Homo sapiens: one gene and its partner. The protein of the gene in region 2 purifies or fractionates together with the protein of the main gene of each other region. This does not show direct contact. Each region holds a gene or a part of one and is shown on either strand. Other genes may lie near its edges. The genes, in order: ZNF627 and FBLN5.

Evidence for each region.
Region 1: the proteins of FBLN5 (region 2) and ZNF627 purify together in Homo sapiens (co-immunoprecipitation; 2 studies listed by BioGRID and IntAct, with this or other methods). This does not show direct contact.

What each region holds. Positions count from the first base shown.
Region 1 is NC_000019.10:11,588,297-11,605,309, reverse strand, and holds the start of ZNF627 (zinc finger protein 627), read right to left. Parts: upstream 7,828-17,013; 5' UTR 7,683-7,827; coding exon 7,680-7,682; intron 1,101-7,679; exon of another isoform or gene 946-1,100; intron 1-945. UniProt on the Homo sapiens protein: May be involved in transcriptional regulation.
Region 2 is NC_000014.9:91,930,695-91,937,694, forward strand, and holds part of FBLN5 (fibulin-5 isoform 1 precursor), read right to left. Parts: intron 6,508-7,000; coding exon 6,253-6,507; intron 1-6,252. UniProt on the Homo sapiens protein: Essential for elastic fiber formation, is involved in the assembly of continuous elastin (ELN) polymer and promotes the interaction of microfibrils and ELN. Stabilizes and organizes elastic fibers in the skin, lung and vasculature.

The DNA of each region.
Region 1 (17,013 bases), on a different chromosome or scaffold from region 2:
TTCAAGACCACCCTGGCCAAGATGGTGAAACCTTGTCTCTACTAAAAATACAAAAAAAAATTAGTCAGGCCTGGTGGTGGGCACCTGTAACCCCAGCTACTTGGGAGGCTGAGGCAGAGAATTGCTTGAACCTGGGAGGCAGAGGTTGCAGTGAGCCATGATCGCACCACTGCACTCCAGCCTGGGTGACAGAGCAAGACTCCATCTCAAAAAAAAAAAAAAAAAAAAAGAAAGAAAGAAAAACTAGGCTGAAGAGGTCTCAAGTACTCCTTCCTTCACCAAACTTGAGTCAAGCTCCTCAGAGCCCTCTTTTTGACTAGGGCTTGGCACTGGCCTGCAGAAGTCAGTTTCAGCAAGAATCCATCTAAGGTAGTTTATAGAGACTCCTCCTACCTTAATATCCAATCAAGTTCTTTTTCTCCCACCTATGAGACCCAACCAAGTTCCATTCTCTCCCTCACCTTGTACATTGGCTATAAATCCAATAATATTCCTGCTGCATTCAAGGCTGAATTCAATCTCCCTCCCCTATTACAGCTGTCATGACTCACTGCAATTGTGCTTAATAAACTTTTCCTTGACATTCTTAACAAGTTTCCAGTGCAATCTCTCTTTAACAGGGAACAAGGCTGTAAACTTGAGACCCTGGTTCATTTATCTGAAATGCATAGGGGATGACAGGCTCCCTCCCACTGGGGATGAAGGAGCTGGGAACCACACATGCCATTCTGCTGGGCCCACCCAAGTCTGAATCCATGGAGGGGGAGGGTGTCCTGAGAGTACCTCCCACCCACAAACCCAAAACACCAGGCTCAGATTTCTCTCTGGATGGCCACTCCCTGTTGTCACCCCATGATCTGGGTGAGATCCAGGATTGCAGGTGCACAACTGCCCAGAGAGAGGTCCAGGAGGTAGACTGCCTCCTACAGTGATGGGACAGGATACCTGGGAGTCCTGGCTGCCAATTCAGCCCCCACCCTGATGGAGTGTGATGGAGGGGACTGAGACTCAGGCTGCTTCTGGATAAGATGCCCCACCAGACACAGGATTTGCAAGTCGTTCTTCCACTTGGTGAATTATCTTTTCAAGTTCTTGGTGTCCTTTGAAGAACAAAAATTACCAATTTTGATGAAGTGTAAACTTTAGTTAGTAACATATTGGCTCACCAATTCTGATCATCATCATATATGATATATTGGTTCATCAATTATATGATATATATGATATCATATTTACGTACTTTGGGAGGCCAGGATGGGAGAATCACTTGAGCCAGGAGTTAGAGATCAGCCTGGACAACATAGTGAGACCCCCATCTACCAAAAAAAAAAAAAATTAGCCAGATGTGGTGGTGCACACCTGTGGTCCCAGCTACTTGGGAGGCTGAGGCGGCAGGATCACTTGAGCCCTGGAGGTCTAGCCTGCAGTGAGCAGTGATCGCACCACTGCACTCAAGCCTGGGTGACAGAGCAAGACTTCGTCTCTTAAAAAAAAAGAAAAGTAGGGGAAAACAATCACCTGTGGAGGAGAATAAGGAAACTCTAAGTATTATCTGTTCAATTTTTCTGTCAAACTACAACCGGTCTAAAAAATAAAGTTTATTAAGTAAAATAGTGAATAAAATACCATTTCATGGAAGATTCACAGCTATGTGAAATAGACAGATGGCATACAATATAACATATAGGATGATATCACTTCCACAAAAAACAGACAAAAATAAGGCCGGGCGTAGTGGCTCACACCTATAATCCCAACACTTTGGGAGGCATAGCTGGGTGGACTGCTTGAGCCCAGGAGTTCAAGACCAGCTTAGACAGCATGGCAAAACCCCGCCTCCACAAAAAAAAAAAATACAAAAATTAGCTGGTGTGGTACTGTGCACCTGTAGTCCTAGCTTGTTGGGAGACTGAGGTGGGAGAATCACTTGAGCCCGGAGGCAGAGGTTGCGGTGAGCCAAGAGCGCCACTGCACTCCAGCCTGGGCTACACAGTGAGACTCCATCTCAAAAAAAAAAAAAAAAAAGGCTAAGAATAGCCAAGATGTCGTACAAAATACAGTTAGGATTGTTAACAGACTGAATGTTTGTATTCCACCACCATCCCCTGCCCAAACTTTCATTTGCTGAAATCCTAACCCCCAAACTAAATGCAGAAACCAGCATGCGTGAAACAAACAGGCAAAGAAACCAAAAAAAAACTCTTTTTGGCATAATATTAATGGTAATAACTTACTAAAAATTCAAAAGAGGAAGAGCCAAGCAAAATTCAGCCTAATGATAAATAGATGGTAAAACTATGAAGAACCACCTTTTAAAAATGAGGACCTGGTCACCTGTGGGTACAGACGGGAGACAAGATCAGGACATACCAGAAATGCCCAATGCCCATTTATGAACCTGGGTAGTGAGTCCACAGGTGTTTCACACAACCCACTCTCCTCTCCTCACAGTGTGGAAATGCTCCCTCCTCCAGGGTCTCAATTCTCACCAGCGAACACTTACCCAGAGCCAGGTGAAGGTTCTGATCTCTAGTGTCTTTTTTCATATACCATTTCTGACACCAAATGTGTGGTGTTTGCTGAACACAACCAAATCTCCAATTCTCCAACACCAATTAAGCATTCAAATCAATTCTGACACTACCCAGAGTTAACGGGGACCCCACAAGTTCAGGGCTCATTACCATAACAGTGCCCCACTGCAGATGCCAGTCACAAGCCCCAGGGATCACCCATACTTCTCAGCAACTGCATATAAATCAGAAATGGCGAAATGGAAGGGATGGATGTAAGGGAAAATGGCGGCAGAAGATTGGGCAGGTATGTAATCCTGGAAATAGCTATGGTTAAAGAAACTCCCCCGTCTTTTGTATTCTGCAGGAGCAGGTTACGCAAAGAAACACTCTTCTCATTATGACTTAGATGACACTGCTTTTTTACCTATGACAAAGCCATACACAGACTAGAAATTCCCTTTATTTTCCTCACAATTGATTAGCTGAACAGCTCTGTCTTCAGTGATCAGTCAGAACAAAGTACCTGTTAACAAAACTTTGGTTAAGTTTCTCTTCTTCCTCCAGCCCCTGAACTTTGACCCACCCCCAGCCTGAGCCTATATACAACCCCTCTGATGACCCTCCTAAGAAGAGACTGCCTTCAGGATCTAGGTGGGATTTTGCACCCTGCATCCTGCCTTCCACCTCCCACCTTCTTTCTCATCATTTGCTCCTCCCTACAAAAGAAAATCCTTTTCTGCATAAACTCTGAGATGCTTGCAGATTTTTTTTTTTTTTTTTTTTTTTTTGAGACAGAGTCTCACTCTGTCGCCCAGGCTGGAGTGCAGTGGCGCGATCTCGGCTCACTGCAACCTCTGCCTCCTGAGTTCAAGCGATTCTCCTGCCTCAGCCTCCCGAGTAGTTGGGATTACAGGCACGCACCACCATGCCCGGCTAATTTTTGTATTTTTAGTAGAGATGGGGTTTCACTATGTTGGTCAGGCTGGTCTCAAACTCCTAACATTGTGATCCACCCACCTCGGCCTCCCAAAGTGCATGGATTACAGACGTGAGCCACCACGCCCAGCCTGAGATGCTTGAAGATTTTATACTTGGTGCCTTCTCCCCTTTCGATTATCCTTTAGAATAGTCATTCCTGTCTGGTGTGGTGGTGCTCCCCGCCCCACCCCCATAATCCTGGAATTTGGGGAGGCTACGGTGGGAGGATTGCTCGAGGCCAGGAGTTAGAGACCAGTCTGGGCAACATAACAACGTCCTGTCTCTCTTAAAAAAACTTTTTTAAAAATATAAGCCAGGCATCATGGCACATGCCTTTAGTCCTAGGTACTTGGGAGGCTGATGTGAGAGAATTCCTTGAGCCCAGGAGATCAAGGCTACAGTGAGCTATGATCGCACCACTGCACTCCAGCCTAGGAGACAGAGTGAGACCCTGTCACACACAAAAAAAATAAATAAATAAAAATAAAATAAATCACTCCTTACCTAAATCCAGATTTGTTTCATTAGAAACGTCTACAAACAGACCCAAGATAATAGCAAGTACATTCTCAGAAAGGCATCACCTCAACCACCTCTGCCTATGAATCCCCAGCTTTCCAGGGCTCTGAGCTTCTCTCACTATAAAGGGCTCCACCCAAAGTCAGTTGTGAGCAGCTGGGACACTGCAGGGGAGGCTCCTCAGCAAGAACCACTGGGCCTGTAATGTCCTCTCTTTGAAGGCTCAAGATTGGTCTTAGTTTCAAGTCACTAGTCTGCTGTCTCTGTTTCCCAGTCAAGGTTATGCATTTAATTTTCAATGAGAAAATACCCAGGGTTTGAAGATTCCAGTAAAATCACTCAAATTCACTGTTTATAGCAAGGAAGGAAATTGTAAGGCACTTATATTTCATACCTTAACAGGAAAAGTAAAAGTATCCATCCTCTTCAGACAATAAACATGTTATTTATTCTTTCTATGGTAACAAATCATGTACTAAATCATATTGGAACACTTCTAGGAGTTACCAAGTCCTGTCCTACTAGGACTTCGCATTAAACTCTGATGTCTAGATAACAGGAAGAGAACAGTTATCCACTGTCACAAGTTTGCCACCCTGCAAAGCAGAGGAATTGATGTTTTGGTGAATCTCTGTAATTCACCAATTTATTTGCTACACTTACTTGTGGAAATGTATTCATTTTCTGCAGTCATGATAGAAGAGAGTTTTCTCTCTCTCTTTTCCTTAGTATTCCCAACACTAAGCCCTGGAATTCCATTTTAAATCACCACACCCCACCCCCACAAAAAAAAACAACATACTTGAGAAACTTACTACACTTGCTTTGGGAAAGAAAAAAATAATAATTTTTTTTTTGAGATGGAGTCTTGCTCTGTTGCCCAGGCTGCAGTGCAGTGGCGCAATCATGGATCACTGCAAGCTCCGCCTCCCAGGTTCATGCCATTCTCCTGCCTCAGCCTCCCAAGTAGCTGGCACTACAGGCACCCGCCACCATGCCCAGCTAATTTTTTGTGTTTTTAGTAGAGACAGGGTTTCACTGTGTTAGCCAGGATGGTCTCGATCTCCTGACCTCGTGATCTGCCTGCCTCAGCCTCCCAAAGTGCTGGGATTACATGCGTGAGCCATCGCGCCCAGCCATAAGTAATAATTTTTAACAAACATAAGACTAGATATTTAATGTTTTCTGAAATCCACTTCCTTCTTGCCTCTTTGCAAAACTGTCTTATATTTCAAGGTCTACTGATGAAATACATTTATAGTTACTTAAAAAAGAAAAAAACTGAAACTGCAATAAGTGAACAAATCTTTTGCAGGGGACAAACCCAGGAAGGGGCTGCGCTAACCTGGAACAGAGGTACGTCTGACTCAAGTTTCACATCTTTTTTTTTGAGACAGAGTCTCGCTCTGTCACCCAGGCTGGGGTGCAGTGGTGTGATCTCGGTTCACTGCAACCTTTGCCTCCCACGTTAAAGCGATTCTCATGCCTCAGCCTCCCCAGTAGCTGAGATTAGAGGCACCTGCCACCACACCCAGCTAATTTTTGTATTTTTTAGTAGAGACAGGGTTTCGCCATGTTGGCCGGGCTGGTCTCGAACTCATGGCCTCAAGTGATCCGCCCACCTCAGCTTCCCAAAGTGCTGGGATTACAGGTGTGAGCCACCGCGCCCGGCCTAAGTCAGGTCATTCTATCACCTGGGATATCGTCCACCCCCTAACCTGCTCACTGAAGGGCTCAGTGACCACCCTTCCAAGAGACACTGCATTTTGCCTCCATCTGCCTGAAGTACATTTTGCTTTTCAAGTTCTTGCATCACCTCAGTGGGATGGGTTTTCCTGTCCTTGGGATAAGTTTTCTCACTTCACCAGTCTAAAAGAATCCAGAGGGCAAGAATCATATCTGTTTTTCCCCTCAATACCATCATCCATTTGGCTGGACACCAATGTGTCCCCCAAGGAATGGGATCTGGAATTAGGGGAAGAAAAGCTGAGTGTCCCAGGGGTGAGCTTTGAGAGGGAGGGGATATCAAGAGATTCCTCCGACCCCAGGACACCCAGCTCCTCCACTAAGAGGCCCCACCCCGTACTTCAGGCTGTCCAGTGGGAGCAGGCTGATACCAGACCCTTCAACAGATCTGGCTGCTGTGGGCATCCTGTGTCAGCCCAAACAGCCCTGAAGCCCAGGACCAGGAAAGGAGGATGCTCTGAAGACATATCACAGTTTAAAGTTTCCAAAGGGGAACCCCAACCCAAAGACACTGTTTTTTGTTTTTTTTATTTTAGGGTCCGGGTCTCACTATGTTGCTCAGGCTGGTCTCAAACTCCTGGCCTCAGGTGATCCTCCCGCCTTGGCCTCCCAAAGTGTTGGGATTACAGACATGAGCCATGGCACCAGGCCAACCAAAAGACATTCTGAGAACATCCCTGTGCCTAGGAGAGAGAAAAGGAGAAGAGGCACAAAGGTTTTTTCACAGCAGGGTCTCATACATGTATTCTCTGCTTTCCTCTCCTGTGAAATGTTCAGAAACAGAAAGCAAATATTTTTAAAAGACCAATCGATTGCTCCTTGAAAAAATAATACAAATTAATTAGTTTGAAATGTGCAATAAAGGACAAAGAGTTGATAATGTCGTGACTGGAGTTACCTTTTGGGAATATGGTGAAAGAAGTGGTATCAAGAATTATTTGCAAGCGCCAGAGGAGTCAGGCTAGGGGAACAAGGTCAAGGATTTGGGACCCTGTCCCCCTGGGGAGTGTTAAAATAATTAATTTGGAGACAATTAGAGGGCTGTGGCTATGGTGTCCTGGTTTCCTACCCAAGGAAACAGAAATCTAAGTCGAATGAAATTCTTTTATTTGATTTTATATTTTAAAAATTTGTAGTAGTTTTTTGGTCTCAGTCTGAATATGTTCATTTAAAAAAAATTAACAGAGATGGGGTCTCGCTATATTGCGAGGCTGATCTTCAACTCCTGGGCCCAAGCGATCCTCCTGTCTTGGCCTCCAAAAGCGCTGCGATTACAGGCGTGAGCCACCGCGCTCCAGCCTCAAATGAAATTCTTATAAATTACCAGTTTATAAGGAAATAAAATTTAGGGTTAATAAACCACAACCACCAATCCACCTCTGACTACATAAGCAGAAAATGTCCACCTAGATAGAGCAAATAAGGCGACTGCATAACTGTCACCAACCAAGTACTGAATTTGGTTCGCTTCCTCCTGCACCTTACAGCCTTTCCTTCCATTCCCTCCAACGGATCCCCAAGCCACAAACCACGACCGGGAGCTTCTCCATCGATGAGCCGCTGTTTGCTCAAATAAACTCTAAATTTTTAACGGGAGAAAGGCGGGACTGTGGGGGGCGGCCACAGACCGCAGCTCCTGCAACACGAACCACATCCGAGGAGGGATACCCCCATGACCCTCCCGCGGCCCCCGCACCATGTGGGGAGACGCGGGGCTGCGGGGCCGCAGGCGTCGCGCAGGGACGGGACAGGACGACCGGGGTCCCAGCTCCTGGCCCAGCCCCACCTTGCGGCCGAGGGAACTCGGGTCCCAGACCCCGGAGTCGCCGCAGGGAGGCCTAGGTCCCTCCACAGCCGGTTCCGGCCGGTTCCAACCAGCCCCTCCCCCAGGTCTGGGGACGCCTGACCCCTCACACGCACCATTTCTCGGCTTCCAGGTGTCCCGGCGTCCTCCCTACGACTCCCGCGACCTGTACAGGTCACGGCGCGACAGAGGCTGCGGCGGAGACACCTTGGGCCTCTCGGAGAAACGGAGACGCGAGCCCGGGTGGGGACGGTCGCCAGAAACAAAGGCTCCGTAGGGAGGCGCAGGCCCTGCCCTCCTCTCCCGGGCCCATCTGAATGGACAGTTGGCAGGGCCCCGCCCCAGCGCCCCTGATTGGATAGGGTGACATACCCCGCCCCCTAAGGCCTGAGTGACGTAGGAAGCCATGGAAACGTGGCTGTGCGTAGCAGTGTTGACTGGTTCTAGCCACTGCGCCTCTCAGGCCGAGTTTCCTCCCTGCACCCAGCCCGAGGGATATTTGAGGGTTTGTTTTGGTTTTTTTTTTTTTTTTTTTTTGAGACGGAGTTTCGCTTTTGTCGCCCAGGCTGGAGTGCAGTGGCGCGATCTCAGCTCACTGCAATCTCTGCCTCCCGGGTTCAAGCGATTCTCGTGCCTCAGCCTCCCGAGTAGCTGAATTACAGGCACCCGCCACCACGCCTGGCTAATTTTTGTATTTTTCGTAGAGACGGGGTTTCGCCATGTTACCGAGGCTGGTCTCTAACTCCTGACCTCAAGTGATACGCCCACCTCAGCCTCCCAAAGTGCTGGGATTACAGGCGTGAGCCACCACGCGTGGCCTTGTTTTGGTTTCCTTCCTTCCTTCCTTCCTTCCTTCCTTCCTTCCTTCCTTCCTTCCATCCTCCCTCCCTCCCTCCTTTCTTTTTTTTCTTTCAGGGTCTTGCTCTGTCACCCAGGCTGGACTGCAGTGGCATGATCTCGGCTCACTCCAGCCCCAATCTCCCGGGCTCAAACGATCCTCCTGCCTCAGCCTCCCTAGTAGCTGGGACCAAAGTCACGCCCCACCACACTCTGCTAATTTTATTTTGTTGTTGGTGCTGTGTGTGTGACGGGGGTGGGGTGGGTTAGATGGGGTCTCACTATGTTGACCAGGCTGGTCGTGAATTCCTGGGCTCAAGTGATCCTCCTGCCTAGGCCTCCCCAGGTGCTGGGATTACAAATGTGAGCCACCGTGCCCGGCCAATATTTGCATTTAATGCAGAGCTTGCTTCTAGCTTGCCAGAGTAGGCACTGTCTTCTTCTGGCACTCCATGAGCTCTTCCTTCTAATTCCTTCCGGACACAAGGTCACCAGTATGTGCAGGGAACTCCACACTCACTGTGACATGGAGCAATCGCCTTGCCTCAGAACGGGAGGGAGCCCAGGCTAGGCCAGGGAGGACAGGAAGAGGAGGAAGGGCCTGATGTTCCGGGAAACGGGCATTTGGGATGAGGCGTGCCAAGGCTTCCTCCCATACCCTCCGGTCCCTGAAAAAACATCTATACGTGGAAAAAAAAGTAGAAATAACTGAGGTGAGAGGAAGGATGCTCTCTGATGAAGTGATGTGGGATGAGACCCAAAGTAATGTATTAGTATTAAAAGGCAGGTTGGGCTGGGTGCGATGGAGCACGCCTGTAATCTAGCACTTTGGGAGGCCGAGGCAGGCGGATCACCTGAGGTCGGGAGTTCGGAACATGGAGAAACCCCATCTCTACTAAAAATACAAAATTAGGCCAGGCGCCGTGGCTCATGCCTGTAATCCCAGCACTTTGGGAGGCCGAGGCGGGCAGATCACGAGGTCTGGAGATCGAGACCATCCTGGCTAACACGGTGAAACCCCATCTCTACTAAAAATACAAAAAATTAGCCGGGCGTGGCAGTGGGCGCCTGTAGTCCCAGCTACTCGGGAGGCTGAGGCAGGAGAATGGCGTGAACCTGGGAGGCGGAACTTGTAGTGAGCCGAGATGGCGCCACTGCGCTCCAGACTGGGAGAGAGAGCGAGATTCCGTCTCAAAAATAAATAAATAAATAAAATAAAATAAATAAATAAATAAAAATACAAAATTAGCCGGGCCTGGTGGCACATGCCTGTAATCCCAGCTACTCGGGAGGCTGAGGCAGGAGAATCGCTTGAATCGGGGAGGTGGAGGTTGCGGTGAGCCAAGATCACACCATTGCACTTTAGCCTGGTCAACAAGAGAGAAACTGTCTCAAAAAAAAAGGCAGGTTAAGCTGGGCACAGTGGCTCATGCCTGTAATCCCAGCACTTTGGGAGGCTGAGGCAGGAGGATAACGAGGTCAGGAGTTTGAGACCAGCCTGGCCAATATAGTGAAACCCCGTCTCTACTAAAAATACAAAAAATTATTGAACCTGGGAGGTGGAGGTTGCAGTGAGCTGAGATCGTGCCACTGCACATCAGCCTGGGCGACAGAGCAAGACTTTGCCTGAAAAAAAAAAAAAAGGCAGGTTGGAGGATTCAGGGAAGATGGCAGAATAAAAATCATAAAGAATCTATGGCCAGGCATGGTGGCTCATGCCTGTAATCCCAGCAGTTTAGGAGGTCAAGGCAGGAGGATCAGTTGAGCCCGGGAGTTTGAAACCAGCCTGGGCAACATAGTGAGACCAACCCCTAACCCCATTTAAAAAATATGAAAATTAGCCAGGGGCTGAGCACAGTGGCTCATGCCTCCAATCCTAGCACTTTGGGAGGCCAAGACGGGAGGATTGCTTGAGCCTAGCAGTTTGAAACCAGTCTGGGCCACATAGTAAACCCTCCCACCCCATCTCTACAAAAAAATACAAAAATTGGCCGGGTGCAGTGACTCATGCCTGTAATCCCAGCACTTTGGGAGGCCGAGGCAGGCGGATCAGGAGGTCAGGAGATTGAGACCATCCTGGCTAACACGGTGAAGCCCCGTCTCTACTAAAACTACAAAAAATTAGCCAGGCGTGGTGGGGGATATAAAGAGCTGATGCCTTTTATTTTTTTCCCTTTGTCAACCTAAAATAATCGAAAGGCTCAAGATCCAGTTAAAATAGTTTATTCAAGGCCAGGCACAGTGGCTCATATCTATAATCCCAGCATTTTGGGAGGTCAAGGCTGGAGGACGGCTTGAGCACAGGAGTTTGAGACCCGCCTGGACCATATAGTGAGACCCTGTCTCTCAAAAAAATATATTGTTTTTAATAAGCTGGGCATGATAGGGTGCACCTGTAGTCCCAGCTACTCGGGGGGCTAGGACGGGAGGATCACTTGATCTCAGGAAATCGAGGTTGCAGTAAGCTATGATGGCACCACTGCACTCCAGCCTAGATGACAGAGACCTTGTCTCAAAAAAAAAAAAAAAAAAGAGTTTATTCAAACACAGAGTACAAGGGTGGCCATCAGGGACATGCTGACACCGAAGAATAGTGATCAATGATCCCAGTGTGGGGAAAAGTGAAAATTGTCTATATAGGCAAAAACAGAGGTGCTGAACAGAAATACATTTCCATACAGATGTTAATATACAGACATAAGATTTGAGGCTGGGTGCCGTGGATCACACCTGTAATCCCAACACTTTGGAAGACCTAGGTAGGTGGATCACCTGACGTCAGGGGTTCAAGACCAACCTGGCCAACATAGTGAAAATCTGTCTCTATTAAAAATACAAAAAGTAGCTGGGCATAGTGACACATGCCTGTAATCCCAGCTACTCAGGAGGCTGAGGCACGAGAATGGCTTGAATCCAGGAAGTAGATGTTGCAGTGAGCCAAGATCATGCCACTGCACTCCAGCCTGGGTGACAGAGCAAGACTCTGTCTCAAAATAAAAAAAAAAATTAAAATAAAAAAAAAAACAGATGTGATTGACTACTGTTGATTACACTCTATGGGGGTTGCTTAACATTCTATTGTAAAGCGGTAACAGTCGCAAGGGTATACATATCCTACATCATTTAGTATAGGTTTGAATGAAGAACAAGGAGTCTGATGGCTACAGTCTCAAAACAAAGGTAAGGAAGCATCAGTCATGCATCAGAGAAGCTGTATTATAAGACTCAGTTTCTAGGACTTAAGTGCTTAATTTTCCCCTTCGCATAATGAATTTGGAAGGTATTGATTTTTTTCTTTTTTTTTTTTTTTTTTAAGACAAGGTCTTGCTCTGTCACCCAGGATAGCGTGCAGTGGTGCTATTATAGCTCACTGCAGCATCGATCTCCTGGGATCAAGCAATCCCCCCACCTCAGCCTCCCGAGTAACTGGGACCACAGGCAAGTGCCACCATACGCGGATAATATTTTTTTAGGTTTAGTAGAGACAATGTCTCGCTATGTTGCCCAGGCTGGTCTAGGACTCCTGAACTCAAGCGATTTTCGCACCTCAGCCCCTCAAAGTGCTGGGATTATAGGCAAGAGCTACCTCGCTCAGCCGAAATTTTATTTTCTTTTTGCACTTTTGTTATTTTATTTTTCTCTTGGGACCCAGACATTGACAATTAGGTCATTCAAAGGCAGCCACAGAGGAAATTACAGTTACCACAGAGGCCCAGAAAAAAAGAATTAAGAAAAGACCGGCCAGGCACGGTGCCTCATGCTTATAATCCCAGCACTTTGGGAGGCCGAGGTGTGTGGATCATTTGAGGTCAGGAGTTCAAGACCAGCCTGGCCAATATGGTGAAACCCCATCTCTACTAAAAATACTAAAATTAGCCGCATGTGGTGGAGCATGCCTGTAATCCCAGCTACTCAGGAGGCTGAGGCAGGAGAATTGCTTGATCCTGGGAGACGGAGGTTGCAGTGAGCTGAGATCGCACCACTGCACTCCAGCCTGGGTGACAGAGCGAGACTCTGTCTCAAAAAGAAAAAAAGAAAGCCGGGGATGGTGGCTCATGCCTGTAATCCCAGCACTTTGGGAGGCCGAGGCAGGCAGGTCACCTGAGGTTGGGAGTTCCGGACCAGCCTGACCAACATGGAGAAACCCTGTCTCTACTAAAAATACAAAATTAGCTGTGCATGGTGGTACATGCCTGTAATCCCAGCTACTTGGGAGGCTGAGGCAGGAGAATCGCTCGAACTCGGGAGGTGGAGGTTGCAGTGAGCTGAGATCACGCCACTGCACTCCAGCCTGGGCAACAAGAGCGAGATGCTTTCTCAAGAAAAGTAATAAAAATAATTATATTTCTATGATATTGGGCACTCAATATATAAAGATGTGATTTGTGACATTAACAACATAAAAGAGCCGGGGGCGGTGGCTCACGCCAGTAATCCTAGCACTTTGGGAGTCCAGGCAAGAGGATCGCTTGAGCTCAGGAGTTCAAGACCAGCCTGGGCAACATAGTGAGACCTTATCTCTATGGAAAAATTAACAAATTAGCCAGTCATGGTGGTGGGCACCTATGGTCCTAACTACTTGGGAGGCTGAGGTGGAAGGATTGTTTGAGCCCGGAAGGTCCAGGCTACAGTAAGCCGTGATCACGCCACTGCACTCCAGATTAGGTCACAGAGTGAGATCCTACCTCAAATAAATAAGTAAATAAAAATTTTAAAAAATAACATAAAAGAAGAGGAAACTATAAAAATAGAGTATCTGGGCCAGGCGTGGTGGCTCACGCCTGTAATTCCAGCACTTTGGGAGGCCGAGGTAGGCGGATTGCCTGAGGTCGGGAGTTTGAGACCAGCCTGACCAACATGGAGAAACCCTGTCTCTACTAAAAATACAAAATTAGCCAGGCGTAATGGCGCACACCTGTAATCCCAGCTACTCAGGAGGCTGAGGCAGGAGAATCGCTTGAACCCAGGAGGCAGAGGTTGCGGTGAGCCGAGATCACACCACTGCACTCCAGCCTGAGCAACAAGAGCGAAACTCCGTCTCAAAAAAAAAAAAAAAAAAAAAGAAAAGAAAAAAGGAAATAGAGTATGTTTATACCATAACCAGGCATAATGGCACATGCATGTAGTCTCAGCTACTTGGGAGGCTGAAACAGGAGGATTACTTGAGCCCAGGAGTTCAAATCTAAGCTTGGGCAACATAGCAAGACTAGTTCTCAATTAATAGAATAGAATATTTCTATGCTATTGAAGTTAAATAGGTATCATTTAAACCTTTGCTGGGAACAGTGGCCCATGTCTGTAATCCCAGCACTTTGGGAGGCTGAGGCGAGAGGATCACTCGAGCTCAGCAGTTCAAGAGCTCAGGCAACATAGTAAGACCTTGTCTGTACAAAAATTTTTTTTAAAAATTAGCCAGGGATGGTGGCCCTTACCTATAGTCCCACATACTCGGGAGGCTGAGGTGAGAGGATTGCTTGAGCCCAGGAGGTTGATGCTGCAGTGAGCCATGATCACACCACTGCACTCCAGCCTGGGTGACAGATAAGGCTCTGTCTCAAAATAAAATAAAATAAAGTTATATTATTATAACTTAGAATGTCAAATGTAATCCCCATAGTAACCATAAAGAAAATATCTATAGAAAATACACGAAAGGAAATAAGAGAATCAAAAAGTCTCATTACAAAAAGTCAAGTAAACAGAAAAGAAGGCAGTAATGGAAGAAATAAAGAACAAAAAAGCTCCAAGACACACAGAACACAAATGGTAAAATGGCTGAAGTTGGGCCTTCCACCTCAGGAATTCCTTTAAATTGAAATGGGTTAAACTTTCCAATCAAAAAACAGAGATAGGCAGAATAGATGTTTAAAATATGATCCAAGCCAGACACAGTGGTGCCTCCCTGTAGTCCCAGTTTAGGGGATTGAAGTGACAAGATTGCTTGAGGCTATTGAGGCGGGGCACATTGGCTCATGCCTGTAATCCCAGCACTTTGGGAGGCTGATACCTGAGGTCAGGAGTTTGAGACCAGCGTGGCCAACATGGTGAAACCCCATCTCTACAAAAGATACAAAAATTAGCCCGGTGTGGTGGCGGGCACCTGTAATCCCAGCTACTCGGGAGGCTGAGGCAGGAGAATCGCTTGAACCCAGGAGGCGGAGGTTGCAGTGAGCGAAGACTATGCCATTACATTCCAGACTGGGCAACAAGAGGGAAATTGTCTCAAAAAAATAAAAATAAAAATAAATAAAATAAAAAATAAAAACAACCTTGAGACAAATATGAAAATCCAACATATCAAAATGTATGGAATGCAGAGAAAGCAGTGCTAGAAGGAAAAATTTATAGCTGTAAATACATTCATTGAAAAAGAAGAAGCCTGGGCAACATGGCCAAACCCTGTCTCTACAAAAAATACAAAAATTAGCTAGGTATGGTGGTGCACGCCTATAGTCCCAGCTACTGGGGAGGCTGAGGTAGGAGGATCGCTTGAGCTTGAGAGGTCGAGGTCACAGTGAGCAGATGGTGCCACTGCAGTCTAGCCTGGGCAACAGAGTGAGACCCTATCTCAAAAAAAAAAAAAAAAAAAAAAAAAGAACTCAATAAAACATATGTATTCATGGCCTGGCATGGTGGCTTACAACTGTAATCCCAGCACTTTGGGAGGCCGAGGCAGGAGGATCACCTGAGGTCAGGAGTTTGAGACCAGCCTGGCCAACATGGCAAAATCCCATCTCTACTAAAAATACAAAAGAAACAAAACAAAACAACAACAACAACAACAAAACATATGTATTCCTTCCTGCGGATCATGAATACTGAAATAATTGGGGGTACCGGCTGGGCGTGGTGGCTCACGTCTGTAATCCCAGCACTTTGGGAGGCCGAAGCAGGCAGATGACCTGAAGTCAAGAGTTTGAGACCAGCCTGGCAAACATGGGGAAACCCCGTCTCTACTAAAAATACAAAAAGTAGCTGGGCGTGGTGCCGGGGGCCTGTAATCCCAGCTACTTGGGAGACTGAGACAGGGGAATCGCTTGAACCCGGGAGGCAGAGGCTACAGTGAGCCGAAATTGCGTTACTGCACTTCAGCCTGGACTCCATCTCAAAAAAATAATAAATAATTGAGGATGGTGAACAAAACCTTGGGTGGAGAGAAATGGGTGCCTAGTAATAACGGGATTAGAGGAACGAGTGTCCATTGGTGTTGTTGACTGTGAGGTGGGTCGTTGTGGAGTTCACAGCTGAGGGAGATCTGTGTGGGGCTCCTTCCTGCCCTGGCTATGGCTTACTCCAGCCGGTCCCCGCATCCTCCCGTGCCCGCTGACAGCCTTGCTGCAGGAGGGGCACCAGAACTTCTCAGCCTGCTACTCCCAAGCAGTTCAGCGGTACCCAGGATAGAAGGACCAGGAGCTGGAGTGGATAAGTCAGGTAACCATGGAATCAGTGGGCACCGGCTGGGATGAAAAGGAGGACAGGGGTTAGGTGGGGCTTGGGTGGGGTTTTCCTCCTTGCCATCCAACTGGCTCAGCAATGGCTGAGGCAAGGAAGTCACCATTTGCTTTCACTTGATGGTGGAGACGATGGATGTTTTTACTCTGGGGGCTAGAGCTGGTGGATATCTGAGAGGATGTGGGGAGGGGTTGGGGGAGCATGATGGGGTCTAGAGAGTAACGGGAATGTTTGATCACGAGGATCAAACATTCAAACATTCAAATGATCAAACGTTCAAATCATTGAGGAAAGAGGTGGGAGTTAGGTAATATAAAGACCAACTCCTGGCCGGGCGCGGTGGCTCACGCCTGTAATCCCAGCACTTTGGGAGGCCGAGGCGGGCGGATCAAGAGGTCAGGAGATCGAGAGCAACCTGGCTAACACGGTGAAATCCCGTCTCTACTAAAAATACAAAAAATTAGCCGGGCGTGGTGGCGGGCACCTGTAGTCCCAGCTACTTGGGAGGCTGAGGCAGGAGAATGGCGTGAACCCGGGAGGCGGAGCTTGCAGTGAGCCGAGATAGCGCCACTGCACTCCAGCCTGGGTGACAGACTGAGACTCCATCTCAAAAAAAAAAAAAAAAAAGAAAGAAACCAACTCCTTGGCATGACAGACCCCACCTCACCTCTCCCGATTTGGGATTTTGTTTGTTTGTTTGTTTTGGTGGAATCTCGCTCTGTCGCCCAGGCTGGAGTGCAGTGGCACGATCTTGGCTCACTGCAACCTCCACCCCCTGGGTTCAAGCATTCTCCTGCCTCAGTCTCCCGAGTAGCTGGGCTTACAGGCGCCCGCCACCACACCTGGCTAATTTTTTATATTTTGGTATAGACGAGGTTTCACCATGTTAGGCAGGCTAGTCTCGAACTCCTGGCCTCAAGTGATCCACCCGCCTCGGCCTCCCGAAGTGCTGGGATTACAGGTGTGAGCCACTGAGCCCAGCCCCATTTGAGATTATTGACCCACCTGGAACCTAGCCAGACTGAACTGGTGGCAGCAAACTACAACAGTGAACAGCTACATTTACATCATGCCACCCTCCAAACCACCAGCCTGACCCTCCACAGCTCATCCTGCCCTCCCATTCTCCAGACTGAAAATCAGTCCCTTAGCCTGTGCGAG
Region 2 (7,000 bases):
CAGCATTAGGGGCTGAGGTTCCTACTTGCCCCGGCCTTTATGCCACATTTGTTCCCACTTCCCACTTTTCTGTCTCACAATTTAAATAATCCCAGGTTCTGCTGCCATTTCCAAGCAGATTCCGAGTGAAGCCACATCAGGCTTAGCTGGGGAAAGCCGTTCGAGGCCTGCAAGGTAAATGTGTACTAGGCTCAGTTTTAGGTCATTTTAAAGGTTTTGAAGAATTAGACGTTTGATGCATTTTCAGACTCTGTGACTCTTCCCCTGGGTTATCATCTCAAGACCCTAGCAGCCTTCTCCACAAATCTTTCCCAGTTAACGTTTACTATGGGATACTCTGCGTAAACACTGGGCAAGGTGTTTGCACATGTTATCTGTGAGACAGGCATTGTTATATCCATTTTACAGATGAGGAAACCAACCCCCGTCCTCACAGGTAGGAAGTGGCCAAACCAAGGTGAGACTCAAAGCCTGTCTGACTTCCCAGTTCCAGTCCCCTCCACCCCAGAAGGCTTCTTATCTCTGCCTTCTTTTTATACCATCTCAGGAACTCATCAGAGGCCGTCTTGAATTTCAGCTGCTTGTGCTTGTGTTGCGTTTAATCTCCCTTCCTTGTCCACAAGCTCTAGAGAGAGCTCCGTGGCCATGCAAAACTCCACATCCCCCTCGGTGCCTAGGCCAGAGCCTGGCACCAACAAAGCACTCTGTACACATTGGTTGACTGAAGAAGTACTGGCTGGCTTTCAGGAAAAATAACTCAAGAGAAAGCCTCAGACCAACACCACCCACCTTCCAAAAGGATTCCATGTGTTGCTCTCTGCCTGTTCTCAGATCAATAACAATAACAAAAATCCTGGACTAGAAGAGAGAATCAAGATATTGCTTGTAATTTCACAAATGGCCGGAATTTCTGCAGTCCCCGGAGTAGCAGGGCTCTAGTAAAAGGCTGCTTTCTCAGCCGCAAAATATTTCACAAACATGAGTTACTGATGGAGTCTCTACATTTGCCACTGAGCCAAGCTGGTTAGCAAAGCTAGAACTTGGAATGTCCACCCAGAGAGATGACAAGTTGAGCCCCCAAGGGAATGAGTTGACAGAGTTGAGTGGCGGCCACGTTCAGGGACCCGGTCTTAGAGGCAGCGTGCCATGAGAGGAAGGTTCCTGAATGGGAGTCCACATCTTGGGTGCCCCAGCCACTCGGCACCAGCTCACCCCACCCCCTGAGGCTTCAGCACCACACCATCCTCAGCCCCACACCGTCCTTCTCTGGGATGTCTATGTGGCCAGCTCAGAACTCTACGTATGTGTTTGATTTGGCCTCTGTCTGGGTCTTGATTGTGAGCTGTTGGGTGAGGCTCTCCTTCAGCAGCCCCTCCCTGCTTACCCGTTAACCATGTCTGTCTGGCTCTCCCTCCCCTGAGAATCTGGTCACCAGATCTCCCAAGGGTCCAGGATCTGGGTGACACACTCTAATGAGCCATGAGTCCCATCACTGTCATGCCAAGATGCCAGTTTTCTGAACAACACAAAACTTGCTTGGCTCGTGGACTATAATTCCTAGGTCACTGTTCACTGTGTCTGCAGAAATGTCCCAAGTGCACACCTAGGGGCCTGTGGACTCAAACCTAAGGCCAAACATTGTTCCAAAAGGACAGGGTCTAGTCACCTCCAAAGTGGAACCAAAAAGAGAAAAATTGAGGAGGAAGCTCTGAGGGACTGGCCACCCAGGTGCTGAGCCCGGCCCCGCCCAGCCCATGGAAACAGCATGGCTTCATGCGGCACCAAGGGATGAAGTGCTTCCTTGAAAGTGGGTCCAAACCCTAGAAAAAGTAAACCGCCGTGAAAGGGGATGCTCATTTGCCTCCCCAAGGCAGACTGTCTTACACTTTGAGAAGAAATCAGTGCATGAAGAGGGCAAAAGATCAAAGATGCTACCTGCAAAATAGCCTGCCCAAAAATTTAACCTGAATTGGATCAAGTCCCTAGATCTATGAGCAGCTTACAAGAAAATATAGGGGACGAAGGAATAAGATAACCCGCGCCCCGGCAAGAGTGCAATCAGCCACCTCCGAAACGTATGAAATTCTACAGAACAAGCAGCTCAGCCTCTTCAACAAATAAGTGGCCAGGGAAACAGTAAAGACTAAAAGACATTTAAGAGACTTGTCAACCAATGCAATTTGCAGAATTTGCATGGATCTGATTTCAACAAACCAACAGACAACAGGCTGCTGAGATGGCTTCGTATGCATGGCCCCTTTGGGGCTCAGCTTGTCATCCCTCTGGGTGGATATTCCAAGTTCTGGCTTTGCTAACCAACTTGGCTCAGTGGCAAATGTAGGGACTCCAATAACTAATGTTAGTGAAATGTTTTGTGGCTGAGAAAGCAGGATTTTGTTAGAGCCATGCTACTCCGGGGACTGCAGGGATTCTTCTGGCCATTTGTGATGAAATTGCAAGGCATTTATGAGACAATCAGAGAGATTTGAACACTACCTGGATATTTAATGATAAAAAGAGATTATTATTGACTTCTGTAGGTTTGATAATGGTATTGTGCTTTTTGGAAGTTTTTTTATTTTAATTTTTTATTTTTTTGAGGCAGAGTCTTGCTCTGTCGCCCAGGCTGGAGTGTAGTGGCACGAGCTCGGCTCACTGCAACCTCCACCTCCTGGGTTCAAGCAATTCTCCTGCCTCAGCCTCCCGAGTAGCTGGGAAAACAGGTGCATACCACCACACCCAACTAATTTTTGTATTTTTAGGGGGTTTCATCATGTTGGCCAGGCTGGTCTCGAACTCCTGACCTCAGGTGATCCACCCACCTCGGCCTCCCAAAGTGCTGGGATTACAGGCATGAGCCACCGTGCCTGGCCTTAAATTTGTTTTTGTAAAGAATTTCTTTATCTCTTAGAGATAATTCTGAAGTCTTTAAGAATGAAATTATATGATGTCTGGGATTTGCTTTAAATTAATGCACTGAGTAGAGTGTAAAGAAGAAAGGAGATTGTGCCCGTGCTGATAACTACAGAAGTTGGGTGATAAGTAGGTAGGTGCTTACTATGCTCTTTCTACTTTTGACTAGGTTCAAAATTTTACAGAGCAAAAAGTTTCATTATGAAAAAAAAAGAGAGATAGCTGGGTGCCACGGCTCACACCTATAATCCCAGCATTGTGGGAGGCCGAGGCATGAGGATTGCTTGAGCCCAGGAATTTGAGACCAGCCTGGGCAACATGGCAAAACCCTGTCTCTACCAAAAAAATACAAAAATAAGCCAGGCATGGTGGCACATGCCTGTAGTCCCAGCTACTTGGGAGGCTGAAATGAGAGGATCACTTGAGCCCAGGAGGCAGAGGTTGCAGTGATCGAGGATCATGGTGGCACATGCCTGTAGTCCCAGCTACTTGGGAGGCTGAAATGGGAGGATCGCTTGAGCCAAGGAGGCAGAGGTTGCAGTGATTGTGCCACTGCACTACAGCCTGGGTAACAGCCAGACCCTGTCTCAGAAAACAAAAATAGCAAGAGAAGGACCTTGTTTTTAATCCTGACTTCAGCACTGACTCTGAGCACCCTCGAACAAATCTATACCTCACTGAGCCTGTTTTCTCATTCAAAGCCTGAATGGTTCAAATCATGGCTCGGCCCCTCACTTGCTGTGTGACTTTGAACAGGTTTCTTAGTTTCTCTGCTTCGGTTTCCTCATGGGTACAATAGGAATGATAATAGTTTTACCTTGTAGCTGGTTATGAGGATCAAGCGCATTAATTATTGTAAAGGTCCTAGCACACGAGTTCTATCCAAGTGTTTGATATTATTACCACTGCTGCTGCGGATGTTACTGTTGATCGCTATTCTTATTTTGATGAAGAGGACAAGACACCTTTGGAGATGTTTCCTCCTCTCCTAGAACACTAAAGTTTCAGAAATGTTTCCCAAGTCTCCCTGACTTACCCACTGCTCATGCAATGCCTCCTCCACAGGATCAGAGCTGTGCTCTGGAAAACACCCACATTCTCTGGGCAGTGACACCTCCACACTCACCTCCTTGTCTTTTCTCAATGATCCCCCCATCTGGTTTCCTTCCCTCCCACCTTCCGCCACGGTGCCTTGCTTCCCTTCCACCTGCTCCCAGGCCCACCTCTCTTCCATCCCAGTTCTTGGAAGGAGCGGTAGGTAGAAAGAGCCTCCCTTTCCCATCCCTTCTCTTACTTCCCCCCACCCCCACAATGCCAGCTCTTTACAATACGCAGAGGGACCTCAGCGAGGGCCATTTGAAAGCCCTGTGTAAAACCAGGAAACCATGGGGTGGGGTGAAGGGAAGTTAGAAAGAACTCAGGACTTATGAATGCATAATGCTGAACTTTTTGGAAATGGATGGGCCTGGTGCCAGTCCTCACTAGGGCTCCTAGATTGTATTCTCCTTACAAAAGGGCCATTATGAAAGTTCCGCATCTCCCGTGTGACAGGTTCAGAGCCATAAATGGCATGACGTCAGAGGGACCAGGGGAGGAATAGGTTTCCCAGCCATGTCCTCATTGTCAAGGGCACTGGGACCCTGGAAAGAGGTTTAGGGGAAGGAGGGAGACACTTTGGAGAAAGCCGCAGCAGTTCCCAGCCGTTCTGCAAAGGAGGCCGCTGAGCTTGCCCGAGGCATCAGCTAGACCTGTCTGCACCACGACCACCCAAGGCCCCCTGCCAAAACCGCAGAGTGCCTCGAAAGAATCATTACACCCTCTTCCTCACCTCAAGACACGTAAGGGCTGATCACTTGGCTTATCCAGCCCCCACGTGACATCCTGGAAGAGCAGCACCTCCCACCTCTATCTCTGCATTTTCTTTTGGGATCATTTCTTTTCTACCAGATAGGAGAGGTCATTTCCTATAGTTAGGAGATTGTAGACAGGGGAGAAGTTAGGGGAGCTGGACTGGCATCCTACCTCTGTAATTACCTAACTGGTTGGAGTCCACACTCTCCTTTCTACAAAATGAAGAAGTTGAAGTTAAAGATTGGTAAAAAAAAGTCCCTTCCAGTTACAAAGGTCTTTCCTCCTGATGCTGGTTATAAGGAAGCATGTTACCATCTTCTCCACCAAAGTTGGCTTGACCGGACCCTGCGCTCATTCCCTTTGCACAGTCATCTACGTTTAAGGTAAACATTAACCAGCTCTGTCTTTCTCACTCTTTCTCTCTCCCCACGCCAACACACACAGAGACCACACGCCTTGAGACCAGCGAAAATGCAGAAGTTTGGGTTCAAGCATACCCAGTGTTCCCTCATAGCTCTGAAGACACTTGTCTGCAATTATTGTATTAAAAAGAGAATGCACACTCCTTCATATAAGCATATAGAAGACACCTTAAATTAACCAACACAGCTTCCCTAATAGTGGGTTACAGCTCAACACTCCAGAGCCCTGAAATGGGACAACAAAATCTTGGGACAAACAAAAATGGGAAAAACAAAAAACAAAATGGGACAAACAAAAATCTTGCTAGACCAATGGTCTCTCAAACTTTTGGGGTAGAGGAAAAAAGTAATAAAACTTCAATTCATATATATTTTTTCTTAAGAGACAAGGTGTCACCATGTTGCCCAGGCTGGAACGCAGTGACTATTCACAGGCGCGATCACAGCGCACCTTGGTCACACCCCTTGCCAATTCCTTTGTGCCTGCTTCTTCCCGGAGGTCCATTCTTGCTGTGAGTTCCTATCAGTGAGGCTCCTTTTGGTCACAAGCACATTAGTTCCAACCCAAGTAACCTAATTTTCTTTCCAGAACAGTTGGCCGTGCCCTTCAAGGCTTCTTGTATTGCAGAAGCACATGTTCCAATCAAGGGTGCGGGGGCTGAGGACAGAGCTTTGGCCCTGTCTAGAACTTCCTCTGAGATTTACTTACTGTAATAAGTCTGACCAGATGTATTGGTTATTTGAGAAAATATTACCTTGGTCTTTAAATATATAGATGAGTTATAGATAGATAGATACAGATAGGTAGGTAGATAGATGAAAGTAAAATAAAGAAAAAAATTGGTTTTCTGGAGAACTGTGAACAAAACAGCAAAATAACCTCCCTAGTTGGGCAGGAACCCAGAGATACAGGCTGCTAAGAGTGAAATAAGTATGCAGAGAGTAAGTCATTGTTTCACTGGTGCATTGAATGGCAACTAACAACCCATTTGTGGTGAGCATGCCAGATACAGACGATGTCTTCACCAAAGCACAGCGGAGAGGAACAAAAGGCCGGGCTACTCACCCACACATTGGTTGCTTTCATCCATCTGGTATCCAAAGCGGCATATAAGAGGCCTGGAGATCGTGGGATAGTTTGGAGCTGAGAGTGGTGGGGCAGCTGCTGGGTACGGACCTGAGTAGGGGGTCGAGTAGGGGTTCGAGTAGGGCCCTCGATACACAGGGTTTGTCCGGGGAATGCATAAATACCCGCCATTTTGGTTAACACACATCATGTCTCCTCGGCAGGCCTCGGGGATGGTTCGGCATTCATCAATATCTGAAAGGCACAGAAAGGGCGAGCATTAGTGGCACCCCAACTGCCTTGTGTCCGGTGCATATTTAAGCAGAACTCGGTACCAGGCGTGGAGGAAGCACTCCCAAACACCTAGGGTGGTCCCAACTCATCGCGGTAAGGTACCCCAAATGTTGGCTGAAGTGTATCAAAGTAACCAGTGTCACTCAAACATCAGCCTTTCAAATACCACCATCATGATTTTGACCATATCTACAAAAACCTTGCTATAGTTTGAATGTCCCTCCAAAACTCATATTGAAACTTAATCCCCAGTGTTGCAATATTGAGTGGTGGGGCCTTTAAGAGGTGATTGGATCCTGAGGGCTGTACTCTCATGAATGGATTAATCTACTCATAGATTAATGGGTTAATGGGTTATCTTGGAAATGAAACTGGTGGCTTTCTAAGAAGAGGAAGAGAGACCTCAGCTAGCAGCCCAGGCCCCTCACCGTGTGATGCCTTGCGTACTTCGGAA